Linked DNA regions of Homo sapiens: region 1 is linked to region 2. Evidence: fine-mapped expression QTL. A gene starts in region 2. The other region holds a variant in brackets. All regions are shown on one strand. Distances are from middle to middle.

Region 1 (4,530 bases), 850 kb after region 2:
CTGCACACAGCACAGGGATTCTAGGCCCAGACCACAAAACCATTTTATGCTCTTAGGCCTCCAGGGCTGTGATGGGAAGGGCTGCATGAAGAACCCTCTGACATGCCCTGGAGACATTTTCCCCATTGTCTTGGGGATTAACACTGGGCTCCTCATTACTTCTGCAAATATCTGCAGCCACTTTGAATTTCTCCTAAGAAGATGGGATTTTCTTTTTTATCACATTGTCAGCCTGCAAATTTTCCAAACTTTTATGCTGTCCTTCCCTTATGAAACTGAATGCCTTTAACAGCACCGAAGTCATGTCTTGAATGCTTTGCTGCTTAGAATTTTTTTTCTGCCAGATAACCTAAATCATCTCTCTCAAGTTCAAAGTTCCACAAATCTCTAGGGCAGGGGCAAAATGCTGCCAGTCTCTTTGATAAGACATAACAAGAGTCACCTTTGCTCCAGTTCCCAACAAGTTCCTCATATCCATCTGAGACCATCTGAGCCTGGATTTCATTGTCCATATCTTTATCAGCATTTTGGTCAAAGCCATTCAATAAGTCTCTAGAGAGTTCCAAATTTTCCCACATTTTCCTGTCATCTTCTGAGCCCTACAAATTGTTCCAACCTCTGTCTGTTACCCAGTTCCAAAGTCGCTTCCACATTTTTGGGTATCTTTTTAGCAGCACCCCACTCTACTGGTACCAATTTACTGTATAGTCCATTTTCATGTTGCTGATAAAGACATACCCGAGACTGGGAAGATAAAGACGTTTAATGGACTTACAGTTCCATGTGGCTGGGGAGGCCTCACAATCATGGCAGAAGGCAAGGAGGAGCAAGTCCCTTATATGGATGGTGTCAGGCAAAGAGAGAGGGCTTGTGCAGGGGAACTCCTATTTATAAAACCATCGGATCTTATGAGACTTACCCACTATCACAAGTAGCATAATAAAGACATGCCCCCATGATTAAATTACCTCCCACTGGGTCCCTCCCATGACATGTGGGAATTGTTGGAGTTACAATTCAAGATGAGATTTGGGTGGGGACACAGCCAAACCATATCACCCCTCAAATCTTAACACAATAGAGTTATATTTCTCACACATTAATTTCCTTGGCTAGTAGCCTTTCACATGATTATGTAGGGACCCAGGGTTCTTCTTCCAGGGTCTTGGAGACAGTCACATTCCACTGGTATATGGAGACAAGACTACAGAAAGATATCTCTTCATGTTTCACTGTGAAGAAACTAGACACTAGGCTCCACCTATGCCTGATATTCAGGGAAATCTAGATCCTAGGTGGACAGCAGCCTCCTAGCACCCAGCTTTACTCTATGGAAGGGGAACACAAATCTTTGTTGATGACCTAATTAGCCCTGTTACCTACTTGAAAGATATTCCAAAATATTGTTGCATGATTTAAAGGGATGCTCATACAGCCACAACCTCCTTATGTGGCAACAGAGTCATTTTGTATATAACCTGCCCATGGACCTTGCATTAATATTATTTAATCAATATGTATAATGCTTACATGGCAGTACCTATGAGTTGATTTTCCTGCATAAAACATATTCAAGTTAAGTGTCTTGTATGACCTCAAACTGCCAATTGAAGTTTCTTGGTCATGGTGTATAAGCCAACAGAAGGTGTTTGTTAATGACTGGCCTCCAGTTGCTTAATTCAGAACTGTGGCCAGTAGGCTGAGCAGATGGCTGAAGAGGTTTGGGCTACATGGGCCATGAACACAGTTGTCAGTGTGGTAGCAGGAGCTCTACAGAAAGTATCTTGATTCCTTCTAATTCTGCAAAAAACAATGAGGCAGAGGGCCCGAGGCTGATCGCCAGATTTAGGCCAAGGAACGTCAAATTATGACATGAGGAGGACCAAGAGTCCTTGAGTTTTAGTCTCCAGGGCTGCAATGACTTAACAGCAAAGTTAATTCCCCAAAATGTCAGAACTGTATATTTCTGGT[C/T]AGATGCCAAATATACACAGCTATAGGCTTGCTTAACTGCACCATCGGGATCTACAGTATTCCCTAATGTCTCTTCAAACACAGCCCTCTCCTTACATTAGGTCTTACTTCTTAAAAATTATGCTGGTTTACAGGAAAAGACTACCAAAAGGAGCCCATTCTACTTCGGTTCCTTCAATATTCCCTTAGAATATTATCTTGCCCAAACACACAGGAAGTAGAAGAATGGCCATACATCCCAGTTTCCTCACAACAGTCCTGGTTAATGCCTGTGGACCAGTATAAGTGTTAATAATACTCCCTTTCAATCTCAATGTATCTTGCTTTGCTCAGGAAACTATTATCAGTTGTGAATCCATGACTAGAACTTAGTTTGTCTGACTCATGGCATAGTGCTCTTTCCACAATATAAAGTTATTTCTAATTATAACCAAACATCAGCATTAAGGGAAGTAGGTGTGCGGTGGGCACAACACTTCCTCCCTCCTTCTAGGTTACTAGACATTTATAGAAGTGAATTAGTCAGAGTAGAATGGAGACATGATTCTGCCTTTCCAAGAATTGGGATAAAGTAAGCAAATCTGGAAGGCTGTCCCTTCTTTAACCTCAGGGTAAGCTCCAACATTCATCCTAAGTTTGAAAATTATGTCAATTCAATTCACAACTAAATTGAAAGAAAATCCAGAGGTTTTCCCCAAACTCATGAATCCACTGCTGCTATTCAACCTAGGCCATTTTCTGCAGAGCTACATAACTGCTAGCCTCACACCATTTCTATCATCTATCAAGAAGGTCCATTTGCCAGGCATGGTGGCTCACACCTCTAACCCCAGCACTTTGGGAGGCTGAGGCGGGCGGATCATGAAGTCAGGAGTTCGAGACCAGCCTGACCAACATGGTGACACCTCATCTCTACTAAAAATACAAAAATTAGCCGGGCATGGTGGTGTGCGCCTGTAATCCCACCTACTCAGGAGGCTGAGGCAGGAAAATCACTTGAACCTGGGAGGTGGAGGTTGCAGTGAGCTGAGATTGTGTCACTGCACTCCAGCCTGGGCAACAGAGAGAGATTCCATCTCAAAAAAAAAAAAAAACAAAAAAACAAGGTCCATTAGTGACACAGTTTCCTTAGTGTTCCCCCCTTAACATTTTATAAAGCCAAAGCATGGCATATATTTTCCCTAAACAGTTTGTCACAGCAGATAATTTAATGTCAATTATTAACCAGGTTGTTTGGTGCCATATGCAAGAAGGAACTCAGCTAACGATCTGAGAGCAAAGATCACAACCAGACTATAGTGATCCAGAAGCTGAACCCAGGCAGGAACAGGGCAAATAAAAGAAATGTGCTCTACCTATTAACATGTTTTCCTGTTATTTCTTTATACTTGTCGCTGCTTAAATGTCGCAGTGCTCAATTCCGATGTCCACCTGTGTACCTGTCAGGAGAAAGTGGCTCCCCAAGAAGCAGAGAGGGAGACCATCTTAAACAAGTGGCAATAAAACGCCACTTCACTCTTCCTAGCCAGGATAGGCCTCTGTCTGAAGGAAATAGCAGCTTGTGGGCCTTTTATGAAAAGTACTTTTGTTCCAGTAGTTTTTCAAGGACAAAAATGTATCTTCACACTTTTGTCATTATATTTATGAACTGTAAATCCTCATTTTATGGAAACACTCCAGGATTTCAAACTCCTAAATCAACCTGGTAAATCTCCAGCCTCAGGGGTTCAATTTAAGGAGAACCTCTTCAAAAATACTGACATTTTATAGGGAACTGCAGGAAAAACAAACAATAAGAGTTTTCAACATACATCTTTTTTTTGGTAACCCTAAAGGCTTGTCATGGGAGACAGCTAACATGTAAGAAGAATAAAGACAGCTGCTGAGAATGCATTTTCTGAGCCGCAGGTCAACATGACTTAAACAATAACAGTGAGATGGTCTCTCCAGAAATTTGGTCTGGGGCCCTGAACAAGCCACCATTGTTTCCTTAAAGGAATATTTACTTTTATATCAGGATATGGATGATGTTAGATATACAAGCAAACTTTTAAGTGTGAGAAAAATGACTCTAGAAAATCTATTTGCAATTGCAAAACACTTTATAAATATTGTAGGCTTGAGGTTTTGCCTTCACTCTTATAATATTCCCCGTTATTGGCTGGACACAGTCCTGCCATAGCGGTTGGTATCTCCATGAACTGTCTGCCAACTTCTACTACTGAGAGCATTTCAATACACCCAGTCTCACCAATGTTTAGCCAGCTGGTAGCCCACATCAGCCATCCAAATATTTCATTGTTGGATGAAATAATTCCACAGGCAACCACAGGTCCTAGGCATGTGAATTTTATGAGGGCTTATTCCACAAACTAGGGCAAAACAGAACACAGAGCAGTTTGCCCCGAGATGCTGAGTGAGACTCACTGTCAATAATTTCTACCCATTCGCAGAAAATATTTTTAAAAATTATGGTCTTCATGAAATTTTGAATTGTAGAAGTGTGAAGAAATGCTTAGGGTCCTGAAAGGCAATATAAACTGTGTGTTTTCTCTGTTA
Region 2 (4,000 bases):
ACCCAGAGAGACTCTGCCGCGGGTGTGCGCGCGGCAGGACAACTCTCCAGGCGCCGTGTAGATTTCTCCCCCTTCCCGCAGCATCTCCCAGGGACATGCAGGACTTGCCGAGACGCAGTTGGATTGGAGAGCAAATAGTTTAGGCTATGACACTATTTTTCTACCCCGCTCTCCTCTGCCTAACACCCAGACCGCTCCACGCCCAGTGACACAGACCGCGGGCCAGAACAACCCGGATGCCCTAGGTCTGCACGCACCAGGGATGTCGCCCTACAGCGCCCACGCCTCTGCAGGACGGTGGGGCGCTCCAGCCGAGGACGTCCCCCGGGGCTCCCGGCACACGCGCGCGCCGCTGCCGCTAGACCTGCCAGTAAAGTTGCTCAACTAGAGCGGAGAACTAGGAGAGGGTGGGGAATATGTAAGGAAACGGAGGACTCCTGTAGTCTGGGCGAGAGGACTGACCCAGAGGCCCCTGATTCGGGTCCCCGAGCCACCTTTGTCTGCAGTGCGCTCTGGGTGCCGGTTTGCTTGTTGAGATGGGAGCGACAGACCCTATTTCACTCTTCAGGGTGAGAAAAATTGTTGCACATCCCTGCCGATTCAGAACAGGCTTTTCCCGCCCAGGGGCCTCCCAGACCTCCGCGGGGCTCCAACAACCCCACCCCCCATCCTCTGCTCCTTCCCTGCTGGCCCCTTCGCACCGCGTGCAGGACAAAAGAACCCAGGGGCGCCGGGAGAGAACCGTGACAGTCCCCAAGTCGTCAAAGAGACACGGCGGGGATCCTGCACCTCCCCCGGCCGGACCTCCTCCCAGACTGCCTGCGGTCTGAAGGGGTCAGGTCCGCGCAAGGTCCCAGGCTGCTTGGGCGCCGGGTCGCACTGTCAGGAGCTGCCCGGGAGTGGCTTTCCAGGAACACCAGGCACTGACCACACACCAGGGGCTGGGAAACCAGGTGGCCTGCACCAAGGCGGCTTCGGGGACTTGTCTGTGGCAAGTCTTGGTAGTCCCCATTCAAACTTTTGCCTCGAGCGTGTTAAGAACAACAACAACAAAAAAATCAAAGTGCCAAAGGTCCCTCTCTTCTCTCCAGCTCAAGAACCCACCACTTTTCTATGATTTCTTTACAATTTATTCCCTCCCTTCCCCCAATTCCGTTAGTCATTTTACCCCCCACCCCACCCTGGGTTTCTTTTGTCTGAATCTTTTTCAACACCAAGGTCCCTCTGTATGCCTCTCCCCAAAAGCCCTTATGAAAGTTACCTGCATTTTTTAAGTGCCTACATTTTCTTAACTTCGCCTTACAGCTCTTTGCCTTAATTAAAGCCTTCTACCAATTGCTTCTTTTTTCTAAGCTCGCGGGTTTTTTTCTATAAGTTTTTTGTTTTTGTTTTTTAAGGGGGGAACAAAAGAAACGTGATTACCTTGGAAGGCGGCTTATTGCAGTTTGGGGGGAAAATTCACTGCAGCGCTGCGCGACTGGGTTCGGCGTTGCCCAGGCGGGTCACATAGGAAGCGTGGTGGCCCGGGGAAGGATGCGGAGGGTGCGGGACGGTGCTGGAAGATGCGGGAGGATGCGGGGCTGGCCGAAGATCTTGGTCCCAGCTCCTGTCCACAACACCTAATGTTCTCGGCTGTTGCGTCCGCACGCCTGGAGTTCTTCCCCAGAAAGGCTCGGGGCAGCTCGCCTGCAAGTTCAAATGCGGGTTGTGACACCCATCATCATTATATCACTGTACCGTCAGAGCCGAGGAGGAGACTCAGCGAGAAGAAGGAGGAGGGAGAGGAGGAGGGTTCATTCACAGGCTCCAAAAGCGCTCCGCAGCTTCAGCCACTCCTAAGAGTCCAGGCTTGGAAAGCAGGCGGAGGGGCGGAAAGGCAGCTCCCCGCGCCTGCGGTAGGGACCGCCTGCCTCCCTCCCCAGGCACTCCCACCTCTTGGCGTTTCTTCCTGACAAGAAGTACCAATCGGCTTGGGGACAGCAGCGCTCCCCATTCAGGGACTCACTCAGTAACATCGCTCTGCTCGCGGAAACCACTGCCCTCCCACTCCTTCCCCACCCCCATTTCCCCGCCCCCCGTGCAGCTAGTTCTGGGTTAGGGGAAAGGAGCCCCCAGGCTCTTAGGGGGCAGGCCAGCAATAGACAATTGAGTACGATCACTTCTTCTCGGGAGCACACAAAACTGTAAAATCAGCAAAGAACTTGGTTACAGCGTGTTTACGCGCCCACAGAGCTTGCCTGTCCCATCAAAGGGAAGTGTCAGGCTCAAGGCTCCTGCCAACCTGAAAGAGACACTGAGAAAACGAGATCCTTCGGGGACCTAGAGGGAAAGTGTAAGAATTCCCCACTGCACTCCCAGGGAACTGCCCAATGGGGAGCCCGGCTTCAAAAGACCCTGGTAATAAAAGGCTGGACAGGAAATTCCCCCAGGCAAATCCCTTGTCGGATTCAAAGAGAATACTTTTCCTCTGCCACAAATCTCTCCCCACATAAGTCTAGATTCTGCTTTCTTCGTTCTTCCTTTCCTTCAGTCTTTCCAAGTATCTCTGAGTAGAATATTTGATAATTTTCCTGAGTAACAGGGACTTCTTGGAAGTATCAATCACCTTTCATGCTTTCCGGAAATAAGACCATAATCTTTCATGCGTATATGCGATTTTTTTTCTTCAGTCAGGCCCACCCCACTGTGTAAACAGCATCAACACATGGAAGAGTCCCCTGCATTGTGTTACAAAAGATTTCCAATAGGACCTTACAGAGAAAAGGGTCAAACAGTTGACACAAAGGATTTCTGTCCCCTTAGAAAAGAGGGACTTTGGATTTTCCTTTTCTTTGAAGTCAAGTATGAGTTTATACAATAGGAACAAAATAAATCCAAGGTGCACATCAGTATAACACTAGGGATACTAGAATGGATGGCAAACTTTTCCTTCTACACAAATATGAAAGTATCCTCACAACTCTTCTCTCTGAAGCCTCTACTTAGAAAATTATATTAAACATAGGACCTCAAAACAGTAGTGATTAAAGATGAAAGCCAATTTTTCCTCTCAACTTCTTTGATTAGTTTGGTTTAAACTTATGCTTTAAAACTTTTAGTAACTTAGACTCCTGTACATGCGCATTTATAAGATTTCTTTTATATTTTGTAATTTGTAGGCATTCAGCATGGTCATTGATTTTAAGTGATAAACAGGTAGAAGACTTGTCAGGATAATTTCAGTTCTCACCATGTGCATCTTTCATTTCTTTTGTTATTTATCAGCCCTCTGCAGTAATATAACTGTCAGTTACATCATTTGGAAATCAATGTGTTTTTGCAGTGAATTATTTATTCTTAGTAAATTTATTGTACTACCATTCCAAACACTGAAATTTGATTTCATCAGATGTTTAGAATGATAGTCACAGAGCAGAATCAGACTTCAACCTTCATGTATAACATGTAAACAAACTAAGGTGCAGAAAGTTACTGTCCCAAAGTCACACAATTAATAGTCCAGTGGTCTTTTCAGTGCTAATCATAGCAACTTTAGATTCAAGATTGCTTGATTCAGGAATGGAGAGAAATAAAATAAAATGAATGTTCATTGAAATATATACTCCAGACATTAAGATAGACCTTTCTGTGAAACACTTCAAGATGTGGATTTGTATTCTCATTCTTAAATTTGAGTAAATCTAGTTGAGTTTCAAAGAGTTCAAGTAACCTGCCCAAGGCCATTTTGTAAGTGACAGATCTGCCAGTCTGAAAAGCTTATTATCTTTTACCCTTTTGTCCCTTTATGATACAGTTAAGTAAAACCTTTCAACAAAGGAGAACTAGATCAGAAACAAGCAACTAATAGCAGATTAATGCCCATTTTTAGGGAAATGTTAATAGTTAACATTCACTATAAATAATGCCATCTGTATATAATGGAACATGATTGAAAGTGATGGGTTAGATACTTTTTACATTCTGAGATGTTTTCATTTATGTTGCCAAATTTGATTCTCTA

Which allele goes with the higher level. Alleles are on the strand shown, and positions count from the first base shown. SD is a standard deviation of normalised expression in the study named.
In carriers of allele C in region 1, the expression in cerebellar hemisphere of the gene that starts at base 1,702 in region 2 tends to be lower than with T alone (small effect, 0.35 SD a copy in GTEx).

The links.
Region 1: its variant is fine-mapped to the expression of VCAN in cerebellar hemisphere (GTEx, PIP 0.95).

Annotation. Positions count from the first base shown.
Region 1 is chr5:82,622,107-82,626,636 of GRCh38, reverse strand. No RefSeq gene overlaps it. Among named protein-coding and RNA genes, the nearest start is that of MIR3977, 220 kb to the left of the region's middle. The variant C/T (reference allele first, on the strand shown) is at 1,972.
Region 2 is chr5:83,469,446-83,473,445 of GRCh38, reverse strand. VCAN (versican) reads right to left here and starts at 1,702. Exons shown (of 15, transcript NM_004385.5): 1 at 1,423-1,702. RefSeq lists an enhancer at 401-1,273.